4 linked regions of the Homo sapiens genome follow. The main gene of each other region encodes a partner of the protein of the gene in region 3 in a complex. Each region holds a gene or a part of one and is shown on either strand. Other genes may lie near its edges.

What was found.
Region 1: TAF1A (region 3) and POLR1H share a complex: the UniProt entries of both Homo sapiens proteins name them as parts of the pol I pre-initiation complex.
Region 2: TAF1A (region 3) and TAF1B share a complex: the UniProt entries of both Homo sapiens proteins name them as parts of the transcription factor SL1/TIF-IB complex.
Region 4: TAF1A (region 3) and POLR1B share a complex: the UniProt entries of both Homo sapiens proteins name them as parts of the pol I pre-initiation complex.

The regions. Positions count from the first base shown.
Region 1 is NC_000006.12:30,056,782-30,064,712, forward strand, and holds the start of POLR1H (DNA-directed RNA polymerase I subunit RPA12), read left to right. Parts: upstream 1-4,483; 5' UTR 4,484-4,743; coding exon 4,744-4,888; intron 4,889-5,135; coding exon 5,136-5,236; intron 5,237-5,442; coding exon 5,443-5,552; intron 5,553-7,891; coding exon 7,892-7,916; 3' UTR 7,917-7,931. UniProt on the Homo sapiens protein: Core component of RNA polymerase I (Pol I), a DNA-dependent RNA polymerase which synthesizes ribosomal RNA precursors using the four ribonucleoside triphosphates as substrates. Can mediate Pol I proofreading of the nascent RNA transcript.
Region 2 is NC_000002.12:9,908,846-9,916,737, reverse strand, and holds part of TAF1B (TATA box-binding protein-associated factor RNA polymerase I subunit B), read right to left. Parts: intron 6,003-7,892; coding exon 5,825-6,002; intron 5,228-5,824; coding exon 5,181-5,227; intron 3,580-5,180; coding exon 3,489-3,579; intron 1-3,488. UniProt on the Homo sapiens protein: Component of RNA polymerase I core factor complex that acts as a GTF2B/TFIIB-like factor and plays a key role in multiple steps during transcription initiation such as pre-initiation complex (PIC) assembly and postpolymerase recruitment events in polymerase I (Pol I) transcription.
Region 3 is NC_000001.11:222,565,750-222,573,641, reverse strand, and holds part of TAF1A (TATA box-binding protein-associated factor RNA polymerase I subunit A), read left to right. Parts: intron 1-2,976; coding exon 2,977-3,107; intron 3,108-3,973; coding exon 3,974-4,132; intron 4,133-4,217; coding exon of another isoform or gene 4,218-4,259; exon of another isoform or gene 4,260-6,217; intron 6,218-7,116; coding exon of another isoform or gene 7,117-7,168; intron 7,169-7,892. UniProt on the Homo sapiens protein: Component of the transcription factor SL1/TIF-IB complex, which is involved in the assembly of the PIC (pre-initiation complex) during RNA polymerase I-dependent transcription.
Region 4 is NC_000002.12:112,538,384-112,546,172, reverse strand, and holds the start of POLR1B (DNA-directed RNA polymerase I subunit RPA2), read right to left. Parts: upstream 3,679-7,789; coding exon 3,502-3,678; intron 509-3,501; exon of another isoform or gene 251-508; intron 1-250. UniProt on the Homo sapiens protein: Catalytic core component of RNA polymerase I (Pol I), a DNA-dependent RNA polymerase which synthesizes ribosomal RNA precursors using the four ribonucleoside triphosphates as substrates.

The sequences.
Region 1 (7,931 bases), on a different chromosome or scaffold from region 3:
AAGGATATGCAACTTGAACAAATGCAAGTCAACTAAAAAAGTTAAGCTAATTTTCAAGTGCAGAACTATCTATCTGTATCTGATACAAATGGGAATATTCACTGAACCCTGGAGAGAACGAGCATTTGAAAAAAAAAAGGGTTCACTTAAGAGATATGATTTTATCATAACAGCATTGAAACTTTAATCTCTTATTTTTCCTATTTGACTTCTTAAAAAGGGTGGCATTGCCAAGAATTTTCTTTGATATGGTTTCACAATTGTATTCACCTTCTCTCCATTCTGAGACTTATCCATAAGAATACTCACTTTAATCCGACTTCTACTGCATGGTTGGAAAAGAAGATACGCAATAACTCTTTCAAACTCCTTTATCTCTTTTACTCTCTCATGCTTCTCATATGTAAGTAGCTGGCTCTGGCTTCTTCTCAAGATTCTCTCCTTGAGTCTTTGTTCTGCAAGTTCTCTCCCTCGAATCATGCGTTCCTGGTGATCCTTAGTCTGCATCTGTTCCCTCTCATTTACCTGCTTTCTTCTCTGTGCGTTCTGGATGCCATGCCCTTCTGGCATAATTTTTGGTAATTTTGTTTCATTGGGGGGTTGTAGTACTTGTCTAAATGGTTTGTTCTTAAATTCTCCAGCCTTTCCTGTTTGATGTATGTGCCTTTCTATGTGTTTCATCTCTCTCTCAGGTACCAAACAGTACTGTTTTAGTCCTTCTACGCTCTGGGTTGTTTTCTCCTCCATTTTTTTCTAGATTTCATTGCCTGTCTCTTCTTTCATCATTTCCACTATTATTTTATTATAATAAGACTCTGCTTTGGCAAGCCAGTAGTCAAGAGAAACAGCTTGCTCCCTACAGAGTATTTCACACTCCTCCTGATATTTCTGCATTATCAACTGTCTTGCTGCTGTTGTATGCACACCACCTAGATTCTGTCAAAGTGAAGTCAGAAATTTATAATGTGATCATCTTTTTCCTTTGAACACATTTAAACAGGAGCCAAGCCCACCCTCCCTAATGACACCAGGAAAAGCTACATGCTCTTTACTTTAGCTTAGTTGTTATTTTATTCCCATCACTCCCAGGTGAGCCTGGGAGCTCTGAAAGTATTAAGTACTCACCACCACAAATCAGTAACTAGGTTTAAAAATGTATGGTGTTGGAAGTTTCCAAAAATGATACTTTGTTTTGCAACTGTGGATATAGCTGGGTAACATTTGCCAGTGTAGACATACTACCTGAATGTGTCACTTGGGCAGAAGGATTTTAAACCTAAGATTCCTTCTCTGTGTAGTTCCAAACTGTATGATGTGAAGATAATTTACTTACCAAGATCTTTTTTTCCAGTGGAGACTGCTGACCTGCAGCAATCCTAGGATCTTTAGATGATGTACCCCAGGCCAATCTGGAAGATAAAAAAGGCAAGGTAGATTCAAATGTAGGAGGTGTCAGAACAAATCTGCTAATAGGGAGGACTACAGCAGGGCCATTTCCCCCATGGGAAACCACTGCATTCCTATGGTAGAAAATAATGAATGCTCTTTTAATAAGAGGATCTTTCCTTTCATATGAACAAGCATACTTTTCCTGTGGACTCAGCGTGAACCACTGTGAATCTCGTATTGGGGATTGTGAGTGGGAAGAGACATGCTCCTTGGTGAGGTGTTGTCCAAGTACATCTATGTCAGTCTGCTCAGTCCTCAAGCCTCCTTTGTGTTCTGAGACGATTGTAGGTTCTAGTTTTCTAGACGATTCTAGGTTTCTAGTTTTCTCTTCCTGCAGTTTCTTGATCCGGGCCCTCTCTGACTCTATCAGCACATACAGCATTTCTGCCCTCTAATCTTTTGTTCTGAAATTCTGTTATTTGACTGCTCAGCCCTCTGCTTGCCTGACTAACAATGCCAATCATCCTTCACTCTAAATCCATTATGAGACTATTCCCTGTTGAACCCCTCAGGATGGCAATTTGTGGTTACTCTGGGTTTATTTATAGAGGAGGCTGATGGCAACACAAATGAAAACTATCATCTTTTATGTGTCATCCCTGGTCTAGCCTGAGTTTACTGTGATGTCGTATTTAAGCCACTGAGGATGCCTGGCATTTCCTCTGTATGTCTTTTATACCATTTAGAGTTCAAAGGATGGTCTTTACAGTCTGACAGAGCTAGATCTGAAATCTAATTCTACCACTTCCTAGGTGTGTGACTCAGGGCAAGTAACTTCTGTCAGCTTTCTCATCTATAAAATGGAGATGTAAGACAAAAATCTGCCTCTCAGGGTTATAAAGAACAAATATGAATTAGATGTAAAGAGCTTGGTAAGTTCTCAATAAATTCTATCTATCTGTCCTTCACAGGTCAAGCTCCTGATTATAAAGTCTTTCCAGTCTACTCTGTCAGTGATCTTCCCTTCCTCTAAATACTTGACATATTTTAATTCTACAACTCATTTGAAAATTAATCGTGGTTTACACTGTGATATCTGTATTCACATATCACTTTTAACATTTTGATGCTGAAATTTAGGCTCATAAGGAATGAAAACTGTAATTTATATCTACAAATATGATGCCTCTATATTGTTGGAAAGGATCTGATATCAAATATTTGGTCTCACTGACCTCTTAGGAACATTCTTATTTGTCTACGTAAGCTTATTTTGAGATTGTAAACGTATGATCATCTTACTTTTACTTCTCTGTACATGGCTTCTAGCACAATACTTAACATTAGAGTCTGTGATCCCAAGTTCTCAAAATTAATGATTTGCTGATTGCTGATGATCCTTGACACATAATATCTGAGCATCTTTTTTAAATATCTGCCATAACATTGTATCTATTTTTATTAAGCCATTTCCCAGTCTTCCTTGAAGTTTACAGATATGTTTCCTTTATATGCATGTTCTGGGCTCTCACATTTTGTACCTACTAGCACAGTTTTATTATATTCTAATTATTCATTCATGTTCCTTGAGGTCAGAGAACACAGATTTCAACTTTGCAGGCTCAGCCTCAGCTCAAAACCTGGCATAGTTGCTCAATAAATCTTTACTGATTAGACTGTGAGCTTTTGTTGGGAAAAGGATATGCCTTTTAATGCTTTGTTCCTTTACTGCAATTCACAGGGGATGTTGGCTGTTTTTCAAATTAAAAACAGAAAACTGAGGAGGGTAGAATTTCAAGTTCCATTTTCAAAGGAGACACACAGATAAGTGAGAATAAAAACTGTCTACGACAATCAGCTCAACAACACGTCTCCCTTTGTAAGACAGAATAACAAGCAATTTCACAGTTAAATGATAGGGCTTGTCACTCTTCAGCAGTTTGCTGAGTTTTAACCCTTTCACTATGGCGTTCTCTCCATTATTACAGAGAAAGGCAGATGGGAGCCTCTCCCAGCGAAAAGACTACAGCTTGTGTCCTTCATAGGAGAAAACAGTGATGGCTCCAGAACTTTTATATGAATGAACTTAGCACAGCTATCAGAGTGGATGGTGGTGGGAGGGCTAGCAGGAAACTAGTAAACAACTACAAGCTGCCCCTTCAGGGAAAGTTTCTACTTGGAATATAAGTTACAGATTAATGAAAATAGAAAGATTTCCCAAAGATACTTATTCTCATGTTTTATAAAAGATCAGGGAAATGTCAGCTGTCCACTTAACGGATGACATAATGAATTAAGAGTTCGATAGGCGGCAGGCACAACTAAAAGCCAAACTCGACCTAAGTCTTATGAAATCCTACTTAATGAGCTTTCTTGACTACTGCTAGCCTCACTTATCTGGCAGGAGTCGAAGGAGAGGAAGCCCCAAGCTCCTCTGTTCCACCACCTCCAAAGTCCTGAACCCCTTCTCAAGTGTACCACTTCATCCCTGCTTCCTTTCGTCCCGTGGGACTAAGCATTCCTCGGGCCTTCACTCTCACCACTTGCTGTCCCTCAAAAAGCCGACTCACCCCTTTCCAAGCGCAGTGAACCGTCCGCAAAGCACGAGGCCGGTTGCGAGCTGCAGAAAGCCCACGCTCGCCAGCGGGACCCAAGGAACGCTAGAACTATACGTCCCAGAACACTTAGCTTTGTTTTTAACTACGGTGCAGCCGCAAAAGGGAAATACCGGCTCAGGACCCAGGGGAGTTGTAGTTCTCTAATCCAAAGAAATCATTATTTGGCAACGTACGGTTTTCAGGGGGATATACCCCGCGACTGCGTTCCTGTAGGATGTGAGACAAAGAGAATAAATATCCCAGGATTGGGTGCTGGTGGGAAAATTTGCTGGAAGCGCAGCATTGGTTACCAATTTTGTGCTCAACCTCTCAGTACCAGGGTGAAAGTGGAGACGCAATCTCCCTTGGAAGACGTTAGTCTCCATCTCTAACGCTCCCGAGACACGGTTCGCAATTAATTATGACGTCACAGCCAATCGTCAACGCGAAAGCCTGACGCTCTAGCCGGCTCTATCTCGCTGCCCCGCCGCGGGCGCAGAGCTGGCGCTCTAGCCCACGGAGTTGGTTAACTCCTCTCACCGGCCCCTGGAAAGGGTTCCAAGTCCTTTAGTACCCGACGCTGTCTGGGAATTCCGGGCGTTTCGGCTCCTTGGTCGCAGAGGCAGGAGGCGTGCGTGGCAGGAGGGTTCGGGTTATATACTCCTAGGTCCTGGGACAGAATAGTTACGACCTCTGGGACAGGAACTCTTCTCTCTTTTGTTAATAAACTTCCAACTCCCTCCTCAGACCCGACCGCATGTCTGTCATGGACCTCGCCAATACTTGCTCCAGCTTTCAGTCGGACCTGGATTTCTGTTCAGATTGCGGCTCGGTCCTGCCTCTGCCCGGGGCTCAGGATACGGTCACCTGTATTCGCTGTGGCTTCAACATCAACGTTCGGGGTGAGAGGCTTGTACGCAGGGGTCCTGGCGGAGGGCGCAGGGTCGGAAGCTTGGGGAACTCAAGATCGGTTGGGTTGAGGAGGGGATCCTAGAGCAGGACATCAGGCGGTTGTACATTTGGTCTAGCGATGAAAACTGAGGGAAAGGATGTAGGGCCTCCTGGCCTAACCAGCCAGGGGAAAGGGGAGGTTTCCGGTGTCAGCTCTCTCTGGTTGTCTCCATAACCAGTTCTTACTTGCCTGTGCAGACTTTGAGGGGAAGGTTGTGAAGACTTCGGTTGTGTTCCACCAACTGGGGACAGCCATGCCTATGTCGGTGGAGGAAGGGCCTGAGTGCCAGGGACCTGTGGTAAGCTAATGAGATCAAGAACTGGCTCCATAAGGTGGGTAGGAAAGAAATGGAGGAGTGATTGCAAAGCTCTGGAGAGTTTTGTGCCCAATTCCAAGAGGGAAAAGAGATGTAAACCATCGACGTTTGAGAGGCGTGATCGCCTGATTCCTGTGGGAAGTAAGGGGATATGACCAGGCCTCCCTAACCCACCAGTTTCTTCCCAGGTTGACAGGCGCTGCCCTCGATGTGGTCATGAAGGAATGGCATACCACACCAGACAGATGCGTTCAGCCGATGAAGGGCAAACTGTCTTCTACACCTGTACCAACTGCAAGTGAGTATTCTTTCCCCTCCCTCTGCTCAGTCTGTTTGCTAACTAAACAAATCCAGTGATTTATTTTTTTGTACGAAATGGCCGTTTCCCTTGGTCCCATCCCTTATTTCTGTGCAGTTCTGGTAATAGGGAGATTTGTAGTTGTTTTTTATTTTTTTAAGTTACACTTTTTTAAACCTTTTTATAACCAGTGAAATAAACCTTTTAGGATTTTTTTTTTTTTTTTTTTTTTTTTTTGACAGGGTGTCGCTCTGTCACCTAGCCTGGAGTGCAGCGAGGCAATCTTGGCTCACTGCAACCTCCGCCTCCTGGGCTCAGGTAATCCTCCCACCTCAGCCTCCAAAGTAGCTGGGACCACAGACACATGCCACCACGCCTGGCTTTTTTTTTTTTTTTTTTTTTTTTTTTTTGTATTTTTAGTAGAGATGGGGTTTCTCTATGTTTCCCAGGCTGGTCTTGAACTTCTGAGCTCAAGTGATCCACCCACCTCAGCATCCCAAAGTGCTGGGATTACAGGCATGAGCCACCCCGCCTGACCTACTTTTAGGATATTTAAAAGGAAATGAAGAAAAAAAAAACAACATAAGAAGCAGGTATTGTTTAGTGGTCAGCATCTTATACTGCAGTCTTCAACCGCAGTCAAGGTAGCTTTCTTTGGAGAGAATTAGTCACACATGACTTAGAGAACATGGGCTTTCTGAATGCTTTTAAGACCTCATTTTTGTCTTTGGTGTTCTGCAGTCACTATAGTATATCAAAATACGATTTTCTTTTATTCTGTTTGGGATTTGTTGGACTTTCTGAAACTGAGAGTGGACTTTTTTTTCATCAACCTTGGAAAATTATCAGCCATCATCTCTTTTAATATTCTCTTTCCCCCATGTTCTCAGTCCTCACATTCTGGACCTCGAATTAGTTACTAGAAAGAGGTTTCTCTCTTCTGTCCTCCATTTCTCTCACCTTCTTTTCATATTTTCAATTGCTGTTCTCTTTATGCCACCTTCTGAGTAATTTCTTCAGGTCCCTCTTCCATGTCACTAATTCTGTCTTCAGTTTATTTCAAGTATTATTATTTTTTACTATTGTTATTATTTTGAGTTCTATTTAATTACTTTTCAAATCTCCTTAATTTTTAAATAATTATCAGTTCTTTAATCATATTTTAAATTGTTCCTTTTATTATTCTTTAAATATATATTTAAAATATTAAATATGGTTATTATATTCTATGTCTTATAATTCTGATATCTGCGGATTTTGTGTGTCTGATGCTGCTGTCTTTTGTTTCTGCTGTCTCTCTCATAGTGCTTTTTTTCTTTGTTTTGTGATTTTTGACTATAAATTCGAGTTTTTTAGAACTTGAACTGTAGGAATTCTTTGAGGCCTTGGGCGAGTGCTGTATTCTCAGCATTTGTGTTTCTTTTCTAGGTGCCTTGAAGCACTATCAAGCTGGAATTACTTTAAATAAATTCTTGGCTTCATGTTTTTTGGAGCAGACAGATAGTATGAATTTGAGCTGCAAATCCATGTAAGGGCTAGCTTACAGTTAGAAATTCTCAGGAGAGAGTTTTCTCTCTTTCTACCTACTGAGACAGTCAAATTCCCCTTCTATAGAGTTGAATTTTTTCTTTTCTTGTTCACTTTTACAAGAAAGGGCAGCCTTTTGCAGTTCCCAAATTTATGCACGGGATCTCCTATCAGACCTTATACATTTTGTCCCTCATTTCCTATGCTTCCAGTGACTGTCAAAACAGTATAAAGGGCACCATAGTGTCACTGTCACGTTTCATAGGGACATTAGTTTTAACTTCCCTGTCTGGATTTCTGGTTTTACAGAACTTTTAACCAGTGTGCAGATTGCCTTTACTTTCTTGCCATCTCATCAAAGGATTAAAAATATTCATAGTCAGATATATCTTTTAAAAGTATTTTTTTCCTATCACTGGTTGTCATTTTACCAAAAAAAAAAAAATTTTTTTTAAATAAAAAGAAGATTTTTTTTCCCAGCGTGTGGCTTGCCTATTTTCTTAACCCTCTTTAAATGAGCAGAAGTTTTAAGTTTTTATAAGGTTCAGCTTATCCTTTTTTTTTTCTTTTACAGCTAGTGCTTTCTGTGTCCTAAGAAATCTTTGCTTTGAGGTTATAACTCATTGGATATATTTTTAATCCCAGAATTTTTAGTTGTCTTGGAATTAGAATTGGAAGTTTGTTTAGGGGAGCCAGTCCTCAATGATGTCATAAATAAAAGTCCTTCCTTGATTATTTGATTGCATATCTTATCTTATACTACTAGAAACTCATCTTTTGGTGAATATAACAAGTCCTTTCTTTCCTCATAGGTTCCAGGAGAAGGAAGACTCTTGACCTTTTTCCTGGGCA
Region 2 (7,892 bases), on a different chromosome or scaffold from region 3:
GTGAACCATACCACATTTAAAATATATCAGAGAGTTTGTCATTTAATGTTATGGTAAATGAGTTAGCGATTCTTTAAAATATATTTTTTTGCCATTAATTTTCTTAAATAATAAAATCTCAAAGGATAAAGAAGTTCCCTGAACAGTCTAATCCCAATCCCTGGGCACACTCACTGTTAAACATTCCTTGTGAATACCTAATCTAAATGGAAGTTTCTTATGCATTTACAGTAAATGCCTACACAAGTGGCAATCATGCCACAGATCAAGAAAGCATTATGATGCCCTTGGGGTGATATGCCCCAAGAATGGGAAAGGTGATCTAAAATAAAAATACTCTTAAGTGTTCAGATACCTGAAATGAAAGCTTCTTCCAAAATTGACTTTACCTTGCCTGCCTTTTCTCATTACATAAAACTACAAAAGGAGACACATCACAAACCATGTTTTCCAGTTACATGTTATCTATATATTTCTCTCTTGTCTGTCTGCATATGTTTCCTCATTTTTAAAAATTAAGGTATAATTTACATTCAGTAAAATTTACTCTTTTCAGTGTAGTTCTGCTAGCACTGACAAACACATACAGTTGCATGTGTGTACTCACCACAATTACTACGTAGAACAGTTCCATCACTCCAAAATATCTCCCACATCCCTTGACAGTCAACCCTTGATCTCAGGCAACTACTGGTCTGTTTTTCTGTCCCCATAGTTTAGCCTTTTCCAGAATGTCATATAAATGGAATCATAGCATAAGTAACCTTTTGAGTCTTTCACATAGCATAATGCATTTAAGATTCACTCATATTGCTGGATGCATAAGAAGTCTGTACTGCTAAATGGTATTCCACTGTACGGATACAACAGTTTAGCTAGTCACCAGTTGAAGAACATGTGGTTTGTTGCCAGTTTTTGGCAATTATGAATGAAACCATTAGAAACATTCCTATGCAGATTTTTGTGTGAGCTTGTTTTCATTTCATTAGGGTAAATATCTAGGAGTGAAAAACACTGGATAACATAATAAATGTATGTTTAACTTTGAGAAACTGACAACTTTTCAAAATAGCGGTACCATTTTGAATTCCCACACTGGGAATGATCAGTTTTTGTTTTTGTTTTGTTTTGAACCATTCTAATTGGTATATAATGATATGTCATTGTCGTTTTAATTTGCATTTCCCTATTAATGATGTTAAACATCTTTTCACATGCCATCTTGATATCATCTTTGGTAAAACGTCTTTTCAAATATTTTGCCCATTTAAAAAAATGGAGTTTTTTTCTTATTGCCTAAAAATTCTTTATATACTCTAGATACAAATCTTTAAACGGATATGTGATTTGCATTTAATTTCTCCTCGTCTGTAGCTTCTTATTCGTTTAAGTTCTTTTGTGGAGCAGAGGTTCTTACTTCTGATGAAGTCCAATTTACCAATTTTTTTTCTTTTATAGATCATGCTTTTGGTGTCACATCTAAGAAATTTCTGCCTAACCCAAAAGGGAAGGCAAAAATTAGCAGTGAACTCAAATTAAAACCATAATGAGATATCACTATACACCAATTAGGGCATAGAGATTTTCTGCACAGGCTTAATTTTTCTCCATGTTCTTCTCAACATCTTCTATAACAGCTAGAAGTCATCAAAGTAGCCTCTTACGCTGTTTTAGGTTTTCAACTATTGTTTATTAGTGTTTTTCATAATCTCATGCATAGGAACCCATGCTCAGATATAGAAAATGTTTTAATAATTTTCATCTGACAACATGGATGATAATATTCAGAGAAACAAAGAGAAAAATTAGACATGTATGTCAACATGGGGGTGGGGAAGGGTGAAACCGACAGGTGGCCACCACGCACTGAGCTCTGGGCCTGAGCAGCAGTTGGTAGTGCTTCGCATATTACTCAGCAGTGACTCACACTGCACGTGTGTGTCAGCCCTCAGCACATACTCTAGGAAGAAGGACCTTGGAAACGGGTCCCCTCGACAGCCTCCACCTTGGGGCCCGGTACCTCCCTGGAAAGTGCCATTTTATAACCAGACTTACTTTCTTTGGCCAATAAATTATTCCCTAAAGTAGCTAAAAGCCGGTAAGTCTTAAATGTGCAACTGACATAACACTGCAATAATGAACTGGGCCTCCAAGAGCTATGTTTAAAGTGTAGGTTGGTGTCTGGCTTGGGGTAAGGAAAGCCCTGTCACCACTGAGACCCCAGGGAGGAATGGCCCCTAGGCACCCAGTCCTTAGGATCCGTCAGGACTAACCCCAGCTAGCACCACAGAAAGGAAGGCTGATTCTCCAAAATGACCTAAGACACATAACAAAATCTTGTTCCTGCTGCTATTCTTGTGCCCACTGAGAGCCACTGACTGAAGAGTCACTCCTTCTCTGATGAGGAGGCAGGGAGCCTGGTTTCCTGGGAATCCATGGGCTGTTGGGATAAATTCACCTCCACCCCTCTTCTTCATTGTGCATCAATCCTGCCTACTGAGAGGGAACCTGTCACACTTCCCTGCTATGGAAAGGATCATCTCCACAGTGCCTTTTCTACCCCAAGAGTCTGTTTTTCTATTTAAAAGCCCTCTGAAATTTAGAGGAAAAATAATCTAGTTCTACTCTCATACTGGAAAATTGGGTCTTAATTACAGTATATAAGTGGGCATTATTATGTCTATTTTACTGATGAAGAAATAGGAGCTGAACAAATTCTCATTTCAACTAATATGGGGAACCTTGATTTTTCTCAAAGGATATAAAATTACTGAGTCGAATTAGTATTACTGTAAATTTACATTAAATACAGAGATGTTACCTTTTTCTTCAAAGCCTCAAAGAGACTCAGACTCAGCAAAAGGTTAAGTAACTGGCCCATGGGCACACAGCTAGCTTGTAATGCAGACAGGATTCAAACCTAGCGCTGCTTATGCTCTCTTCTACCCTACCACAATGAGCCCACATCAGAATGACAGTTCAAAGAAAGGCAGTGACACTGGCTGAATCAAATGGACTTGCTATCTGCTTTCCTTTGTTTTAATTTTCACAGGGATCTTTATTTTGGGGGAACATTCCAATTACATATGTTGCAAGGTAACATTTGTAATCTTTTTAATATTGGGAAGCATAGATGAGAAATGACTAAATTTGAGAAAGGGGAAGAGGGAGGAGTATTAGAAATATAGGCAAGTCTCATGCAAATTATAAAAAGTTAAATTATAAAAAGTATACTGTGGTATCCTGCATTGGATCATGGAACAGAAAGAGGACATTAATAAAAACACTGGTGAAATCCACATCAAATCTAAACTTTGATTAATAGTAATGTAAAAAAGAGAAAAGTTAATTAGAGTGTAGGGCTAATATTTCCAGAAAAAAAAGTCACAATGTAGATAAGTGTATACTGATGAAGCTTCAGCTTTCAAATGTAAAGTAACAGACACAGAAGTAAGGCAGGTGCATCTAAACCAGGAAGGAGAACATACTTGGCCCTTGCTTCTTCCCATTTTTGTTTTTTCTCATCAAAAGCTTTCTTCATAATTTGGTACCACTTTCTGAAATCAAACCATGGCTTATCTGAAAGAAATAAAATCCAAGATTATTAACCAAATAAACCACACTATAATAATATACATTGTTCATCTGAGTTTTCATTAATTGACTGCACTGGGCAGTTGGTGTGAGTGTGTGATCAAGATGTAGACATTAGAGAGACAACAGAACTGAATGCAGTAAAGTATAAAAACTCACTCCTCACTCTTTCACTCCATACAGGGATTATTCTCCATTATTCTCTGGCGAAGGCAGTCTCTTTCCATGCCTAACTAAAAATCTTTTCAACTGGTCAATATGATAATTGTTTAATCCAATATGACCTTGTAGACCATACAGCCACAGAAGAGAGGAAACTACCGAAAGAACTGTAAGAACAGAGGAAAACTATAGTAATCAATAGAACTCACGGTTCTTGGACCTGGAGTAAATCACAACTTTTCTAAACCTCAATCTCCCCATCAATAATGCTGGGGGCAGGGGATGGTGATTAGCAGACAGAGCAGAGAGAAATGACAGTGATCTTTGCCCTGCTGACAGCATGGATTTATTTTGAGGCTTACAGGGAGACAGGTCAAAGCGCTCTGTTTATTCTACATGTCTACGTAGTAAATTATCATCTTTTAGCATTAGAGGGGATGTTAGAAGACAGCTAGTTCAACCTTTCACTCTACATAGAAGCCAACATGAGCAATGTACAGAAAGTAGTATTTTATTTTGCACATATTCTGGAAAGAACACACAAACTGATTGCTTCCAATAAATTCAAGCCTCTAAAACCAATGAACATAAATCCTAATGAGAACAGAACATTAAGAAACTGGAATTGAATTTAATAATCCACATATTCACCACACTTCACTGAGTTGCTCTTAGGCTAGTCACTATGTTAGGCACTAAAGATACATTAAAAGAAAAAAAAAAAAAGATATGATCCCTCCCTCCAGAAGCTCACACTTCACTTGTCTATCTGTCTATCACTTATAAAGTACTTATTAGATGCCAGATACTCTTCTAAGCACTTTACAAATATTGGCAATCTAATAGGGACAGACGTACTTAGGCCATTAGTTAGACCTCAAGGCACTAAACATCTAGCAAAAGTCTGAACAAGAGTGACTGCGGCAGGAGTTATTAGTTCTGATTTGGGAAGAGGTGAAGCATTGTGAAGTGGATAGGTGTGAAGACCAGACAGAAGAGTGGTGTTTATGCTGCATCTTCAAGAATAAAGAGGCATTTGCCAGGGACTGAACAGGAGTTGGGGTAAGAAGGAAAGAGCATTTCAGATAGAGGGACCAACAAGAGCAAAGGCTGAAAGCATCAGAATCGACAGGATGGTCACAAAGCTGCCTGTAAATTCATGATCTAGCATGGCTGGTGAGTAGAAGTTGGGAATACAAAGCAGCCTGGTCTTACATATAATACGGACTCACTGATATTTTTTAGTACCCTAGAGATACAAGTAGGTAATTATATGAAAAAACAATACTGGTACAATATACAATTTGTATACATGTGTTTATGTGTATATGTGTATTTTTCAAAGTTGTTTGCCTACATTTATTCCATCTTTTAATCTATCATCTATAACCACTTTGAATTTGAATGATAAAAAATTAAAATACCTTTTTTGTTCTTTTCATTATGCTTTTCAGCAAGATTAGACAAAGACCTGGAGATAACAATAAACAAATCAATTTATTTAGAAGTCATGTATTTGGAAAGATAAATTCTGAATTCTTCTGAGAGAAAAGTGTAGAACAGTATTTGAAATTGATACCATGTTTTAATGGAGAAGCAATCACTGAAACAGAGGAGGAGACACTATAAATACTGTCACTCTTTGTTGGCATCTGGGAGGGGTGACATATTAAGATTCCTTTACTTTCTAAAATAATCTTTGAGAACACATATTGCCAGGAGCCTAAAGGGATATAGATAGAGATTTATGAAGATACTTTAAAACTAGGAAATCAGTGGAGCAATGAGGAACATTGCTACCTAAAGAATAACAGGTATAAAACATGATCAAACAACTGACAACCAGCTGAGTCAAAGTACTGTGTAAGAAATAATTGTGACTACTAGTCAATGTTCTGTAACAATTGAGAGTCTCCATTTTTTGAGATAACATATAATTAGGTAAATACAGTACAAATTTTTTCTTTAGCTCTTTTTTTAAAGTGTCTTCATGACATTTAAAGCTTTCTTAAAAAACTAAGATCAGCACCATAAAATGTTACTTGTCATAAAATTGACGTACACTTACCACTCGAAACTGTCATCCAATAGAAAGAGCAGTTTCAATACCACCACAATGATAGCTACAGCTTGTACATCGTACTTAACAGTTTTTGCCATTTTAGCTATAGGATCAAATGTCAGAAAATCCACTTCTCCCATTCCAGTCATTTTTACCACGTGGCAAGTTAAGCTATGCATTTCATCTGAAGAACAAAACAGTAAAATGTAAATTATTTGCCAACTAGACCATCCCCAATGTATATATCCATAAAATAACCTTTATCTTAAAACACGACACTATGCAAGAACTCAGAGACCCACATTTTGTGAATAAAACATCAAAACATGGCATCCATATAGAAAAATGAATGGTAGAATCTTAAAACGGCGTATCATTCCCTATTCCGACTTCCTAAAACATCTACTATTTCTAGGACACATCCTGGCATCTGGCAGCCACATACCAGTTGTTTCATCCACATCTCTTGTCTGTGTTTCTATAGCAGTGTTTGCTCACCTAAAACTAACTCCCTTATGAGACCAAAAGCTTCTCTAGCAATGTATGTGCACTGGCTGGCATCCTGGCTAGCACACTGGAAGCCCTCAACAACTGTTTAACTAGATATATTGCTTTCCTAAAGAAATTATATGTTCAGCATAGACTACACCTATTACTCAAGACTGAATAATGTGGGACTTGGAACCAGAAAACCTAGGACCTATATTTAAGCTTTCCAATCACTAGCTTTGTGACTCTTGGATCAGAGTCACTTAGCCTCAGTTTCTTCACTTGTAAAATGGGTTATAATGAGAATAAATTGAGGTTATGTTCAAGTGAATAGACTTTGAAAACTAAACAAAAAATTTCTGTACTTCCCAATCTAAGTATGTAAGCTGTGACCACACAATTTCAAGTATGACAGCCATTTTTTATAAGAGATAATGAGCTTGCATGGAACTGAACTGAATCTTCTACATGCATTCAGTCACCATGTCCTGTTAATTCCATTCTCTCAATGTGGCATATAGTACCATGGTTGAGAATAGACTATGGAACCAAACTGCCTGGACTAGAGTCCCTGCTCCATCACTTACTAGCTCTGTGACCGTGGACATGTTATACAACCTTTCTGTGCCTCAGTTTTTAAACAATCTATCTAAAATAGGAATAAGAATAGTACCTGCTTCATAGCTGTTGTGAAGACTAAATTAATGAATATACCTAAGGCACTTGGATCAGTGCTGACTGCTTTCCAATCCATCCCCTTTCTTCCCGTCACTGTTGCTCCTTAGGCCACCCTTATAACTGCTCTCCCTTTCTCTAGTCTTACTCTCCTGTGGCCCAATCATCGTATTCCCCTGCTCTCATGAACTCACTAAAGCTTTTAGCTCCCAGCCTAATCTCCATAGTTCCCCCAAACAAGCCATATTCTCACTTGCCTCTCTGCTTTGCACAGCTACTTTTGCCCCTTTGCCTAGAAAGCCAGTTTCTTTCCCCCATTCCTCATCTCAGGCTCTGCCTGGCTGAAGCTCACTCATCTTAGAGAACTTGGTTATACCAGTGACCTCCTCTAAGAACAGACATGATACCACAGCCTCCTGTGACTGGCCCTCTTCTGAGTGCTAAAGCAGATGTCCTGGCATGTACCCTTCTATTGCACAGTTAAGGGTTTATCTTTCTGTTTCCCTCTTAAACTTGAGGGTGACTCAATCTTGTTTTATTTGTCTTCCTAACTGCTACAACCCACACATAATTCGTACTAATTACACGTTTATGATAAAGAATAAAACACAAAATTAATTTCTTTCTTGAAACATTTAAGTAAAAAAGTTTTGCTGATTAAAAAATGCTTTGTTAACATAGAAACAGAACACATATAACAATGATAATTCAAAATATCGCATCAAAGTATTTTTCTGTCTACCAGATTCTGGTAGCTTGGCTCAGGTTTTCACTTGGCTTTTATTCTTCCAACAAACATTTATTGAGCAACTAGTGTGTTCTGGGTACTTAAGACACAGACACAGTCCTCTTCCTCAAGTCCTTTTCCTAATGAGAATGCAGTATGCTACAGGCTATGACAAACATGGGA
Region 3 (7,892 bases):
GTATGAGGGTACAAATTTCTCCACATCCTCACCAACACTTGCCATTATCTGTCTTTTCTATTATAGTCATCCTGGTGGGTGTGAAATGGCATCTTGTAGTTTTGATTTGCATTTTCCTGGGTGTTAATGATGTTGAGCATCTTTTCATGTGCTTATGGGCCATTTGTATATCATTTTTGGAGAAATTTTCATTCAGATCTTTTGCTCATATTTTAATTACCTGCTTTTAGATTATTGAGTTTTGTAAGAGTACTTAGTTGTTCTAGACAGAATTCTCTTATCAGATATATCAGATTCATGACTTGGAAATATTTTCACCTTTTCTGTGTGTTTTCACTATCTTTTTATTTTATTTTACTATTATTATTTTTTGAGACGGAGTCTCACTCTGTCACCGAGGCAGGAGTGCAAGTGGCGCAATCTCAGCTCACTGCAACCTCTGGCTCCCAGGTTCAAGTGATTCTCCTGCCTCAGCCTCCCGAGTAGGTGGGATTAGAGGTGCCTGCCACCACGCCCAGCTAATTTTTGTGTTTTTAGTAGAAATGGGGTTTCACCATGTTGGCCAGGCTGGTCTCGAACTCCTGACCTCAAGTGATCTGCCCACCTCAGCCTCCCAAAGTGTTGGAATTACAGATGTGAGCCACTGTGCCTGGCCTTCTTTTCACTATCTTGATGGTGTCCTTTGAAGCATAAAAGTGTTTCATTTGATGAGGTTTAATTTAACTGTTTCTTCTTTTGTTGCTTGTGGTTTTGGTATCACATCTAAGAAGCTGTTGCCTACTGCAAGGTCGCAAAGATTTTCACTTCTTCTGAGAGTTTTAAAGTTTTAGCTCTTATATTTTGGCCTTTGAGTTAATTTTTATGAAGTAGGTAGGGGCCCAACTTTATTATTTTGTATGTGGATATCCAGTTGTAGCATTTATTGAAAAGTCTATTATTTTCCCACTGAATTGTCTTGGCACCCTTACTGAAAATTAGTTAGCAGCCGGGAGCAGTGGCCATGCCTGTAATCCTAGCACTTTGGGAGGCCAAGACAGGTAGATCGCATGAGCCCTCAGGAGTTCGAAACCAACCTGGGCAACATGGTGAAACTGCATCTCTACAAAAAATACAAAAATTAGCTGAGTGTGGTAGCGTGTGCCTGTAGTCCTGGCTACTTGAGTGGCTGAGGTGAGAGGTTCACTTGAGCCCAGGAGGTAGAGTGAGGCTTCAGTAAGCTGAAATCATGCCACTGCAGTCCAGCCTGGGAGACAAAGTAAGGCCCTGTCTTACACACACACAAAAGAAAATTAGTTACCTATAAATGTAGAGGTTTACTTCTGGACTCTAAATCTTCCATTGATCTACATGTGTCTCTCTTTCTGCCCATATCACACAGTCTTGATTACTACAGCTTTGTAGTACTTTTTTTTTTTTTTTTTTTGAGACTGAGTCTTGCTGTGTTGCCCATGCTGGAGTATAGTGGCAGGATCTCAGCTCACTGCAATCTGTGTCTTCCAGGTTCAAGCGATTCCTGTGCCTCAGCCTCCTGAGTAGCTGGGACTACAGGCGTGTGCCACCACGCCCAGCTAATTTTTTCGTACTTTTAGTAGAGACGGGGTTTCACCTTGTTGGTCAGGCTGGTCTCGAACTCCTGACCTCAGGTGATCCACCCACATCGGCCTCCCAAAGTGCTGGGATTATAGGTGTGAGCCACCATGCCTGGCCATAGTCATAGAGTACATTATCCAACTTTGTCCTTTTTAAAGATTCTTTGTTCTTCTTTGGTCCCTTGCATTTTCGTATGAATTATAGAATCAGCCTGTCAACTTATGCAAAAAGGCCGAGTTTTTGATAGGAATTACATGTATCTGTAGATCAATTTGACAATAGTAAGTCTTTCAACTGAACACAGAGTGTCTTTTCATTCATTTAGGTCTTAAAAAATTTTTTTTCAACAGTATCACTTTTCAGAGTAAAATTTTGCATCTCTTTTGTAAAATTTCTACCCATTTTGTTACTTTTGATGCTTTTGCAAATGGCATTGTTTTCCTAATTTTATCTTCTGCTTGTTCATTGCAAGTGTATAGACATACAGTTGATTATTGTGTATTGATCTTGTACTCTGCAACCTTTGTGAACTCATTTATTAGTTCAGTAAATTTTTAGTGGGTTCTTAGGATTTTTCTGTGTACAAGACCATGTCATCTGCAAATAGAGATAGTTTTACTTCTTCCTTTCCAATCTTGGATATCTTTTTGTTATGTTCTTGCTTAATTGTCCTGGCTGGAACCACCAATATAATGAACAAAAGTAGTGAGAAAAGACATTTTTGTCTTATTACTGATTTTAGGGGGAAAGCATGCAGTCTTTTATCATTCAGTTCAATGTTAGCTATGAGTTTTTCATAGATGCCCTTTATCAGATTGAGGAAGTTCCTTCTGTTCCTACATTGTTGAGTCTTTTTATCATGAAGGGTTATTGTGTTTTTTCAGATGCTTTTTCTGTGTCTATTGTGATGATCATGAGGTTTTGGTCCTGTATTCTTTTGATTTGGTTTAGATCAATAGATCTCTATTTTATTATTTGCATTAATTGATTTTCAGATGTTAAGCCAACCTTGCATTCCTAGTATAGATCCGACTTGGACATGATGTATAATGCTTTTTATATGTTGTTGGACTCAGTTTGCTAGTATTTTTGTTAAAGATTTTTGCAGCTATATTCTTAAGAGATACTGATCTGTAGTTTTATTGTGTTGTCTTTGGTTTTGGTATCATGGTAATACTGGCTTAGAATAAGTTAGGAAGTATTCTTTTCTGTCCTTTTTTTGGGAGAATTTGTGAAGAATTAGTATTTTCCTTTAAATATTTGTTGGAATTTACTGTTGTAGCTATCAGCAACTGAGTTTTTCTCGCAGATAGTTTTTTAAATTACTAATTTAACAGAGGTCCTCAATGTTTAATGAATGTTAAAAGATCTTGTATCTTTGGGCAGATAAGGATGATTATGCTTACAATGCAGTAGCCCAGGATGTGTTCAACCACAGCTGGAAGACATCTGCAAATATTTCTGCATTGATTAAAATTCCTGGAGTTTGGGACCCTTTTGTGAAGAGTTATGTAGAAGTAAGTAGAATTTTCATTAAATTTATTGGTTTTATTTTGTCAAAAGCCTATACAAAGACTGCATGCCTAATCTTTATTGATCAGAAAGAAACTAATGGAAAAAATTATTTAAAAGAAAGCAAAAATACGGTGTCTCTTTTTTGGTCTGAATTTGTTTATTTTCACCACTGTATAACCCGTCGTGGCCAAGTATCTATAAAATAAATAGCAGTATAGTTGTAAATGTTAATTCAATCTTATTCTTGTTGAGCTTAAAAGAAATGCAGTAAGATACCTTATGATTTGGTGGGATATAGAAGGAAAGAGGACAAAAATCTGAAAAAATGGGTCATACTATATGAGGTGAAGAATGATGGCTTTTTGGAAGTTCATAAGAATGTCCTGTCATCCCAGAGTCATTGTAAAAGGACTGAGGGCCTTGGTGCTAGGCACTAGGAATAAATCTTCAAAATAATTTGCTTTGTGAAAGTTAATGAGTGGCAAGTTGATAATTGTGTTGTCAGAAGATAATCTCCAAAATCATAATCTGGAGATTCCTGTGTAAGGATGGGAACAGGATGAAAGGAATTACAATTCTCATGCACTCCTTTTGTGGCTGCAGTGATGTAGGGCACTGAGGTTAGCTGCATCACATTTTCGAGCATTAGTGTTCCCTGCTTTGAGGACTCTTATTTTTTATAGGAAGAGAATTTATGTTGAGGTTGCTGCATTGTTTATTAGTAGTAACAAAATACAGGGAAAAAATGGGAACCCTGTCAGTTTTGTGATTTTTAAAAAATACCCATCAGTAAACTTATGCTGTGTATTATTTTTCGTATAGCTGTCTTACAGAATTCAGCTAAGATATTATGATTTATTTTATATAGATGCTGGAATTCTATGGGGATCGAGATGGAGCCCAAGAGGTACTCACCAATTATGCATATGATGAAAAGTTTCCATCAAATCCAAATGCCCATATCTACTTATACAACTTTCTAAAGAGACAGAAGGCACCAAGATCAAAATTGATAAGTGTGCTTAAGGTATAGAATTTTTATCTCGATGTTTGACCAGGGTTGGGAATCTACATTAAAACATTCTTAGGCCATTGCTTTCTAACTTTTATAGCATCTACAGAAAATTTCAATAATGTACAGTACACTGAGATAAACAGAGAAAGTTGGCTCCAGCTGCCATCTCCATGTATGTATCATCCACACTATCCCCTGCTGCCCGGATGAGACTGAGGAGAGAGGATCAGAAGTCTTGTGCAACCCTGGTTGGAATACTCTGCACTGATATTTTTTGAAAATCAACTTTATTGAAATTTAGTTTTCAGAGAGTAAACACACTTATTTTAAGTATGTGCTTGGATGCGTTACATTCATGAACCACCATGGTAATCATGATATAGAACATTTCTGTCGCCCCCAGAATGCCTTTCATTTCCCTTTGCAGCCTGTCTGTCCCCACAACCATGGCCCCAGACAATCACTGATCTGCTTATTGTCACTATAGATTAATTTTTATCTCTTCTAGAATTTCATGTAAATGGACTCTTATGTAGTCATTTTAATCTGGCTTCTCTTGCTCAGCGTAACATATTTGAGATTCACCCATGTTATTGTGTATATTAGTAATTTCCTTATTACTGCTGAATAGTATTTCATTTTTATACATTCACTTCTTGATGGACATTTGGGTAATTTTTACTTTTTGGCTATTGTGAATGATGCTGCTGAGAACATTCATGTACAAGATTCTGTATACACATATATTTTCATGTTTCTTGGGTAGCTACCTGAGAGAGGAGTTGCTGCCTAAGAGTAGTAAGGAAAGTATATGCTTAACTTCCTAAGAAACTGCCCAGCTGTTTTTTGAAGTGACTGTACCATCGACATTCACACAGCAATATGAAAATTCAGTTTCTCCACATCTGTGCCAACACTTGGTATTGGAGGTCTTTTGAATAATAGCCTCTTGTGGGTGTCCCATGTGGCATTAAATTGTATTTCCCTAATGACTAGTGATGTTGAGCATCTTTTAGTATGTCTATTGGCCATCCTGTATCTTCTTTTGTCATGTGTCCAACTACTTAGTCTATTTTTGGGGGGATCAATTGTCTTCTTACTGATTTGGAAATTTTTATATAATCTGGATATAAGTCCTTTGTGAAGAATATTAATTATGAATATTTTCTCTCTGACTGTGCCTTGCCTTTTGGTTTCCTTAATAGTATCTTTCAAAGAGTAGAAACTTCTAGTTTTGATGTTCAGTTTGTACATTTTTTTTTCTTTTATGGTTAGTGCTTTTTGTCTAAGAAATATTTGCCTATCTCAAGATAATGAAGAGTTCTTTTTTTTTTTTTTTTCTAGATGTGTTGTATAGTTTTATGTTTAGGTCATGGTAGATTTTTAGCTATTTTTTTGTGGGTAGTGTGTGGCAAAGGTCAAGGTTCATTTTTTCCCATGTGGTTGTTCCAGCATTATATTGAAGACTCTCCTTTCTCCATTTAGTACATTTGGAACTTTGTTGAAAACCAGTAGGCTGTATATGAAGTCTGTTGTGTTCTAGTGATGTATATTTCCACCTCAATAGATGAAAATTCAGTTTCTCCACATCCTTGCCAATACTTCATATTGTAGGTCTTCTAAATGTGAGTTATTGCCATTCTAGTGGGTGTGTAGTAATATCTCATGTGGCCTTAATATGGTTACTGTAGCTTTGTAGCAAGTCTTGGAATCATATCATGAAAGTCATACAAATTTGTTCTTTTTCAAAATTGCTTTTGGCTTTTCTAGGTTCTTTAACTTTCCATGTATATTGTATAATCAACTTACCTGTTGCTACAAAAAGGTCTTGCTGAGATTTTGAATCTATAGATCAGTTTGAGAGAATTGACATCTCAACTGTATTGAGGTTTCCAAAGTGTAAACATGGCATGTCTCTCCATTTATTTAGGTTTTTAATTTCTCTCTGAACTGTTTTGTAGTTTTTAGTGTATGTATTTTGTTAAATTTGTCCCTAAGTGTTTCATGGGGTTGTTGTATATAATATTGCTTAACATTTTAAATTGTGGGAAAATATATACAAAAATAAATGTTACCATTTTGATCATTTTTAAAGCATATAATTTAGTGGCATTAAGTACATTCATTCACAGTTTTGTGCAACCACCATCACTGTCTATTTCCAGAATGTTTTCGTTATCCGAAGTAGAAACTATTCATTAAACAATAACTCCTCATTGCCTGCTCCTCCCAGCCCCTGAAAACCTCTGTGCTAATTTCCATCTTCGTGAATTTGATTATTCTAGGTACCTCATATAAGTGGAATCATATAACATTTGTCCTTTTGTGTCTTGCTAATTTCACTTAGCATAATGTTTTCAAGGTTCATCCATGTTGTAGCATATATCAGAACGGCCATTTTTATTTAAGGCTGAATAATATTCCATTTTATGTACCTACAACATTTTGCTTATCCATTTCTTGGTAGACATTTGGGTTGTGTTTGTTGTTTGGCTATTATAAGTAATGCTGCTCTAAAGATTAGTGTACAGGTATTTGTTGGAGTTCGCTGCTTTCACTTCTTTTGGGTGTATACTCAGGAGTGAAATTGCTGGATTATATGGTAATTCTTTTAACTTTTTGAGGAATTGTCAAACTGTTTTCTACAGCAACTACACTATTTTACATTCCTACCAACAATTCCACATCCTGGCTAACAGCTTCTATTCTCCATCCCCTTTTTTGATCATTGATATCCTAGTGCAGGGATCCCCAACCCCTGGGTCATGGACCGGTATCTGTTTGTGACCTGTTAGGAACCAGGCCACACAGCAGAAAGTGAGCATCAGGCAAGTGAGCATTACCTGAGGTCTGCCTCCTGTCAGATCAGCGGTGGCATTAGATTCTCATAGGAGCCCGGACCGTATTGTGAACTGCACATGGGAGGGATCTAGGTTGTGTGCTCCTTATGAGAATTTAATGCCTAATGATCTGTAACTGTCTCCCATCACCCCCAGATGGGATCATCCAGTTGCAGGAAAACAAGGGCTCTCACTGATTCTACTTATGGTGAGTTGTATAATTATTTCATTATATATTATAATGTAATAATATAAAGTGCACAATAAATGTAAAGTGCATAAATAATGCAATCCCGAAACCATCCTTGACCCTCACACTGGTCTGTGGAAAAATTGTCTTCCACGAAACCAGGACCTGGTGCCAAAAAAGTTGGGGACCGCTATCCTAGTGGGTGTGAAGTGGTATCTGTGTCTCAGTGTGGTTTTGGTTTGCATTTCCCTAATGTCTAGTGATGTGTATCTTTTCATGTGCTTATTGGCCATTTGTTTATCATCTTTGGCAAATGTCTATTCAAGTCCTCTGCCCTTTTATGAATTGGGTTGTTTGGTTTTTGTTGTTAAATTATAGGAATTCTTTGTATATTTTGTGTTCAGTTTTTAATCATGGCATTTTAGAGGTGAAAGACAAAGGTCCTTTCAACCTAAAGAAATGATAGAGAAAAGTTCTTATCTCTGTTTTCTTTTAAAAGGCCAATTATCTTTATACTTTCGTGATCAAAATTGGCATTATCAAACCTTCAGATGTGGAAACTAAGTTTTATAAATTTTTCAACAGGCTTTGTTTTACTAAACAATCCTTTGCTGTTGTTGTTGTTTGAAACAGGGTCTCACTCTGTTGCCCAAGCTGGAGTGCAATGGCATGATCACGTGAGGCTCCCTGTAGCCTCCACCTCCCTGGCTCAGGTGATCCTGCCACCTCAGCCTCCCGAGTA
Region 4 (7,789 bases), on a different chromosome or scaffold from region 3:
GGAAGCTTTGCTGTTCTGAGGAAGGGGCATCACCAAGCTCTCCTATATATTAATTACAAGCAACCTCCTAGACTTAGTCTTAGAATAATGAAAATGAAAAAATGGAACCAAGAAAGAATACCAAGGAGGTTCTCCACCTTCACGTGAGTTAACTTACCTTTTCTAAATTTTAAAATGTTATCTAAAGCTGGTATTATTTTAGAAATTCATATTTTATTTAAAAATAAAAGCCAGATGCAGTGGCTTATACCTGTAATCCCAATATTTGGGAGACCGAGAGAGGAGGACTACTTGAGCTCAGGAGTTTGAGACCAGGCTGGGCCACATAGGGAGACCCCGTCTCTACAAAAAATAAAAATAAAAAAATTAGCCGGGCATAGTGGTGCACGCCTGTGGTCCCAGCTACTCAAGAGGTTGACGTGGGAGGATCACTTGATCCTGGAAGGTCGAGGCTGCAGTGAGCTATAACCATGCCACTGCATTCCAGCCTAGGTGACAAAGTGAGATCCTGTCTCAAAAAAAAAAACAGAATGAAGTTAAAAAAAGAGAGATTAGACAATTTGCTTTCTCAAGACGCAGCTGCACTATTTAGAAGGAAATACAGTGAACTGTCATTATTCATAATAGTTATGTTCTATACAGTTGCCATAAACACTGAATTAGCCAATACTGAACCACTGCTCCTAGGGTAAATACATGGTTAGCTTCCTGCGAGCCTCTGGTCACATTTCATCAACTGATCAACACACAATCTTGTATTATGTGTGTTTCTGTTTAAGGACAGCTTATTTAATACATATTATTGAGTCCGTAACTCATGCCTGAACAAAGCCTATGATTTCATCCACTGATCAATACACAACCTTGCATTATGTGGGTTTCTGTTTAAGGACAGCTTATCTAATATATATTATTGAGTCCCTAACGCATGCCTGAACAAAGCCTATGTTAAATGCATGTATTAATATTTTCCCCTAAAGGCACAGCACAGCCTTCTTGTGCTTAGGAACTTTATACAGAACTTTAATACTTTAATACTTTGCTTGGGGGACATTTTAAACAGCAAAATCACCAACAAAAAGCACAAAACACGGCACTAAATAGATAGTGAAGACAACCTCTGTTTATAGTTTAAGAACTTAAAACAAGAAGGCCGAGCATCACCTTGTTAGATCTCAGCTGGGAAAATGGACACTGAGCAACTCAACTTTTTTGCTGCTTCTGGGCATGGTGCTTTTGGAGTAGAAGTAAATTTTAGTGAGTAGGTGAATTTGCAAATATGGAATCCCCAAGTAATAAAAATCAATTGTATTTTGAAAAGACAGACACATAAATTCTGACTCACAGAAAGGAGGAATTCACTCCAAAGAAACTTGGCAAAATTATGTTTTGTAAGTAAAAAATATGATAACTATTTTTTCCCTTGGCTTTATAAGTATTAGTTATTTATGTTACTGTGTTTTACAGAACTTTTTCAAATACTATATTATTATAGTCCTAGCTAAGTTGTGGCATCATTTTCTATGCAGGGCCAAATTTTCTTCATCTACTTCAACCAAAACAATTATCACAAGGGACTGAATGCACAAGCAGACATGAGAATCCAGCTGTCTTTTCATTAAGCCAGACATTAAAAAGATTTTTAATAATGCAATTCATCTAACTTCTTTTTTGCTTTGGAAAATATTTTTCTTAAAAATGTTAACATATAATTGGTTTATTTATTTATGTATTTATTTTTTTGGGAGAGTCTCACTCTGTCACCCAGGCTGGAATGCAGTGGTGCAATCTTGGCTCACTGCAACCTCCGCCTCCCAGGTTCAAGCGATTCTCGTGCCTCAGCCTCCTGAGTAGCTGGGATTACAGACATGTGCCACCATGCCCGGCTAATTTTTGTATTTTTTAGTAGAGATGGGGTTTCACCAGGTTGGCCAGGCTGGTCTGGAACTCCTGACCTCAAGTGATCCACCCGCCTTGACCTCCCAAAGTGCAGGGATTACAGTCAAGAGCCACCACACCCAGCCGACTGGCTTATTTTTAAATTAGTGCTTTTCTAAAATTTCTCAATTGGATTTTTTTTTTTTAAAGACAGGTCTCACTCTGTTACCGAGGATGGAGTGCAGCGGCACAATCATAGCTCATTGCAGCCTCAAATTCCTGGGTTCAACTTATCCTCCCACCTCAGCCTCCCGAGTAGCTGGGACCAGCTACTTGGGTGCGCACCACCATGCCCCACTAATTTTTAAATTTTTGTGGAGATGGGGTTTCACTATGTTATCCAAGCTGGTCTTGAAATCCTGGGCTCAAGTCATCCTTCTGCCTTGGCCTCCCAAAGTCCTGGATTACAGGTGTGAGCCACTGCACCCAGCCCGATTAACTTTTAATTAGGAATTTTTTCTCACAGACATGATACTGTAACAATCCAGGCACAATACAAATAACCCCCACCCCTCTAGTCTTTCTAAACAATAAATCTTAATGGCTCCCATATTATTTGCCGAATAGAGTTCAAGAATCAGACTGGCAATCAAAGCTCTCCACATTATCTGTATCCCTATCTCCCACAACACAAATCTTACCCAACAAAACCACAGGTAGGGTCCCCGAAGCATGTGACTCTGCTCTACTCTTCCCCTGGACGAAATGCACGTTTCTCACTTCTTGAACTCATCTAATCCTGCCCTTTCTCAAACTCCTGGATTAGTTGCGCCGCCCATAGGCTCCCGCAGTAGCCCACACAATCCCTTGGCAGAGCAGTTCTCAAGAACATTGGCATGCACTGCTTTCATTATCTTCACCCCTTCAACCCCCAAACACGACAGGGAGCACTTAAATGCATGAACTGTCTCGTACACGGGACTGCCTCCTCCACATCCTCTGAGCCTAGTGCCTGGAGACACTGGGGATGCTTACTAAACGAAGCTTTCCCCCACCATACTCACTTGAATTCTGCTACCATTACTCTACGCTAATAATGCAATTACACTTTTCGATTCAATCTTGCTTTCATGACTCATTTATACCTTCCTCGGCACCTGCTTAATTCATAACAAATGACGAGTAGTTTCTCTCTTTAAAGCTCTAAGAGAAGGAAACTGAAGGATAACCTTGAACATTACACTGTACCTACAAATACGTTCGGGATCTTTCGAGGTACGTTTTGGAGAGGTAAGTCTTCAAGTGATATAAAGCCGTGTGCATTGTGAAGCACATCCCCAGATAAGCCACTTCCTCACTCTCACAGCACCCCGAAACTGTCCAAACTACGGTTCACAATCACTTTTCACTCCAGAATCACGAATACATCTCTTAAGACGCCTCGACTCCAAGTCTCACGAAGGCCAGTACCGCGTCCTGTTTAACATGTTGTGCTCTCCCGCTTACCCACCAAGCCTGTCAGGATCAAGGAGCACATGCATCTGGGGTCATACTGTGACCTCCCAGCCACCTCCCTGGGATTGGCCTCGCCGCGGCAAGGGCGCCGGCGGACGCCGCGCTCACCTGCACCGCGAGGCCGAGACCCTCGTGCACAGCGTAGTTGAAGGACTCCACGTGCGCCCGCGTCAGCTCCTGCAACGCTGCCTTTTGCTGTTCCCGCGGGATTCCATAAGAGGGGTCAGTCAAGTGCTTTAGGCTAGGCCCGCTGGGCAGGTTCCGCCACCGGCTGCCAGGATCCATGTGGCCACCTGCACACCGGACGCCAGTCTCTCGGTACACGCCGGACGCCAGTCTCTCGGTACACGCCGGAAGTAGTGGCCGCAGTCCCGTTTCCGCAGCCTGCTGGGAAATGTAGTTCCCTCTCGTTCCACCCGCCCTAGGCCCTGCGGTTTCGGTTTCTCGGGGTCAACGTAGAACCAAAAACGTCGAGTGAACGGGCCGATTAAGGCCGTGTCCAGCCAGAGCGTGGCGGGCCCTCCCTTTCTCCCATATTCCGCCCCACTCATCTCCCCGCTCGCGAAAGATGCCGCAGGTGGAAACCCGCTCCCCGCCCAGTTGAGCATGTGACCTCTTTGGCTCTCATTGGCTCAGTCAATTAGGATCGGAGGAGAGCGGTCTTCTCAGGCTCTCTTCTGTTTCCCTTCACCTGTTCCCAGTCCCACGCTGATGCCGACCCTGGGGAGTCATCCGGCCAAAGTCGTTGCTTCAACGAAAAAGCGGATGCCGGGCCCCGGGCTGACTCTCTACCCAACTCCTAACTCGCGAGGCTCACCCCTGGGAAGCCAAGGAGTGGTCGGGCCCCGCTAACCTCGTCGCATCTTCCGGACTGGAGGCCTGGGGGAGGCCTGGGGAAGGAGGTGGGAGAGGAGTCGGGCGGTCCCGGATGGAGGGGATGGGGCAGCGGGGCGTCCAACTGGATTTACAGCCTGAATTTCTTTTGCGTTCCTGTGAGCCCCTTACCTCCCCAGAATACTGATTAATCAGGGAATGCCTGCTGGTTTTTCAACTTTATTGTGTTTGTGTTTAACAGCTATATTGCGTTATAACTGGCATACAATAAACCACACATTTAAAGTGTACGCGTTAAGTTTTGACCTATGTATACAACCATGCAGCCATCACCACAATTAAAACAATGAATTAAACCACCACTACCCAGTATCCTCCTGCCCCTGATAGTCCCTCCTTACTGTCAACTTCCCCTTTCCTAGTTCAGCTGGTACTTTTCATTCCTATATCACTTTTTATAAAAAATTCGAGCCGGGAGTCTGTTGCACAGGCTGGTCTTGAACTTCCGGCCTCTAGTGATCCTCTCGCCTTGCCTCCCTAAATGCTGGGATTACAGGCATGAGCCACCGCGCGCGCCCGGCCAACTGAGTAGTTGTAGTTCTTTATATAGCCTATACTAGTCCTTGTCAGATCCATGATTTGCAAATATTTTTCTCCCATTCTGTGGGTTTTTACTTTCTTGCTGGTGTCCTTTGAAGCAAAACGTTTTAATTTTGAAGTGTAGTTTTTTTCTTTTGTTGCCTGTCTTTTTATATCATATCTAAGACATCATTGTGTAATCCAAGGTCATGAGGATTTAAAAAAAAATTTATGGGTACATAATTAGCATATTTATGAGGTATATGAGATGTTTTCATATAGGCATACGATGTAATCATCACAGGAGGGTAGATGGGGTTTCCATCACCTCAAGCATTCATCATTTCTGTCATGAACATTCCAATTGTACTTCCTCAGTTATTTTTGAAGGTACAACAAATTATTGCTGACTGCAGTCACCCTGTTGTGCTATCAAATACTAGATATTTTTCAATCATGGGGATTTTCACCTATATTTTCTACTAAGAGTTTTGTAGTTTCAACTCTTACATTTAAGTCTTTGACTCATTCTGAGCTAATTTTTGTATATGGTGTGAGAAAGGCATATCACTTTATTCCTTTGCATGTGGATATCCAGTTGTCCTAACACCATTTGTTAAAAAGACTATTCTTTCCCTCATCAAATTGTCTTGGCCTCCTTGTCGAAAATCAGTTCACTATAGATGCAAGGGTTTATTTTTGACTCTCAGTTCTATTCTCTTGATCTGTATGTCTATCTACATTTATCTGTATATCTGTCTACAAACTACACAGATTTGATTAATACAGCTTTGTAATAAATTTTGAAATCAGGAAGTGCACATCCTCCAACTTTGTTCTTCTTTCTCCAGATTTATTTGATCCTTTGTATTTCAATATGGATTTTAGCGTCAGCTTAGCTTGTCAATTTCTTTCTCTTTTTTTTTTTTTTTTGTTTTTTGTTTTTTTGAGACAGAGTTTTGCTCTTGTTGCTGAGGATGGAGTGCAGTGGCATGATCTTGGCTCACTGCAACCTCTACCTCCTGCCTCAGCCTCCCAAATAGCTGAGATTACAGGCATGCACCACCATGCCTGGCTAATTTTGTATTTTTAATAGAGACAGGGTTTTACCATGTTGGCCAAGCTGGTCTTGAATTCCTGACCTCAAGTAATCCATCTGCCTTGGCCGCCCAAAGTGCTGGGATTACAGGTGTGAGCCACCACACCCGGCCCAGCTTGTCAATTTCTGCAAAGAAGGCTGAGATTCTTGATCAGGATTGTGTTCAATTGGTAGATCAATTTGGGGCCTATTTTCATCCTAACAATAATTATCTCCCAATCCATAAACATGGGATGTCTTTCCATTTATTTAGGTGTTCTTTAATTTCTTTCAGAGATGTTTTGTAGTATTTGGTGTAGAAATGAACTTTTGTTAAATTTATTCCTAAGTATTTCATTCTTTTTGGTGTTGATATAAATGGAATTGTTTTCTTAACTTCAAATTGTTTGTAATATGTAGAAATACCATTGAGTTTTGTATATTGATCTTGTGTCTGGCAATCTTGCTAAACTCTTTATTAGTTCTAACAGCGTAAGTGGATTTCTTAGGACTTTTTCTATATGGTATCTTGTCGTCTGCAAAGAGAGATCATCATACTTCTCCCTTTCCAATCTGAATGCGCAGTCTTCTTTCCTTCCTTTTGTCGAATTGCTCTGTCTAGAACATTTAATACAATGTTGAAGTGACAAGAATAAATATACTTGTTTTGTGCCTGATATTGGGAAGAAAGCTCCCAACTGGAGCTTTCACATCACCATTAATATGATGTAGGCTGTGGGTTTTTCCAAAGATGCTCTTTATCATGTTGAGGAAGTAATTTATTTCTAGTTTGTTGAAAGGTTTTTTCCAAGAAAGAGTGTTGTGTATTGCCAAATGCTTTTTCAGTGTATATTGAAATGATCATGTGCTTTTTGTCCTCTTTTTTCTATTAAAGTGGTATATTATATTAAGTAAATTTTGTATGTTAAAAAAACCTTGCATTCTTTCTTTTCCCCTTCTCAACGTTTATTTTAGAATCAGGGGGGTACATGTGCGAATTTGTTACAAAGGTATATTGGGTGATGCTGAGGTCTGGGGTATGGTTGAACCTGTCACCCAGGTAGCGAGCACAGTATCCAATAGGTAGTTTTCAATCTTTGCTCCCCTCCTTCTCTCCTGGCTCTAGTAGTCCCCAGTGTCTGCTGTTCCCATCTTTTTTTTTTTTTTTTTTTTTTTTAGACAGAGTCTCTGTCACCCAGGCTGGAGTGCAGTGGCGCAATCTCGGCTCACTGCAACCTCCGCCTTCCAGGTTCAAGTGATTCCCCTGCTTCAGCCTCCTGAGTAGCTGGGATTACAGGCGCCTGCTACCACGCCCGGCTAATTTTTTGTATTTTTAGTGGAGACGGGGTTTCACCATATTAGCCAGGATGGTCTTGATCTCCGGACCTCATGATCCGCCCGCCTTGGCCTCCCAAAGTGCTGGGATGACAGGCGTGAGCCACCGCGACTGGCCTCTTCCCAACTTTATGTCCATGTGTACCCAATGTTTAGCTCCCACTTTTTAATTTTTTTGAGACAGGACTTGCTCTGTCACCTAGGACAGAGAGCAGTTGTGCGATCTCTGCTCACTGCAACCTCCTCTTCTCAGGTTCAAGCGATTCTTGTGCCTCAGCCATCAGAGTAGCTGGGATTACAGGCATGCACCACCATGCCTGGCTAATTCTTGTATTTTTTATAGAGACCAGATTTAATCATGTTGCCCAGGCTGGACTCAAACTCCTGGCCTCATTTGATCTGCCCACCTTGGCCTCCTAAAAGTGCTGAGATTATAGGAGTGAGCCACCGTGCTCAGCCTAGCTTCCACTTACAAGAGAACATGAGTTATTCCAAACTTTGTAATCTTAGGATAAGTCCCACTTAGTCATAATGTATAATCCTTTTTCTATGTTGCTGGATTTGGTTTAC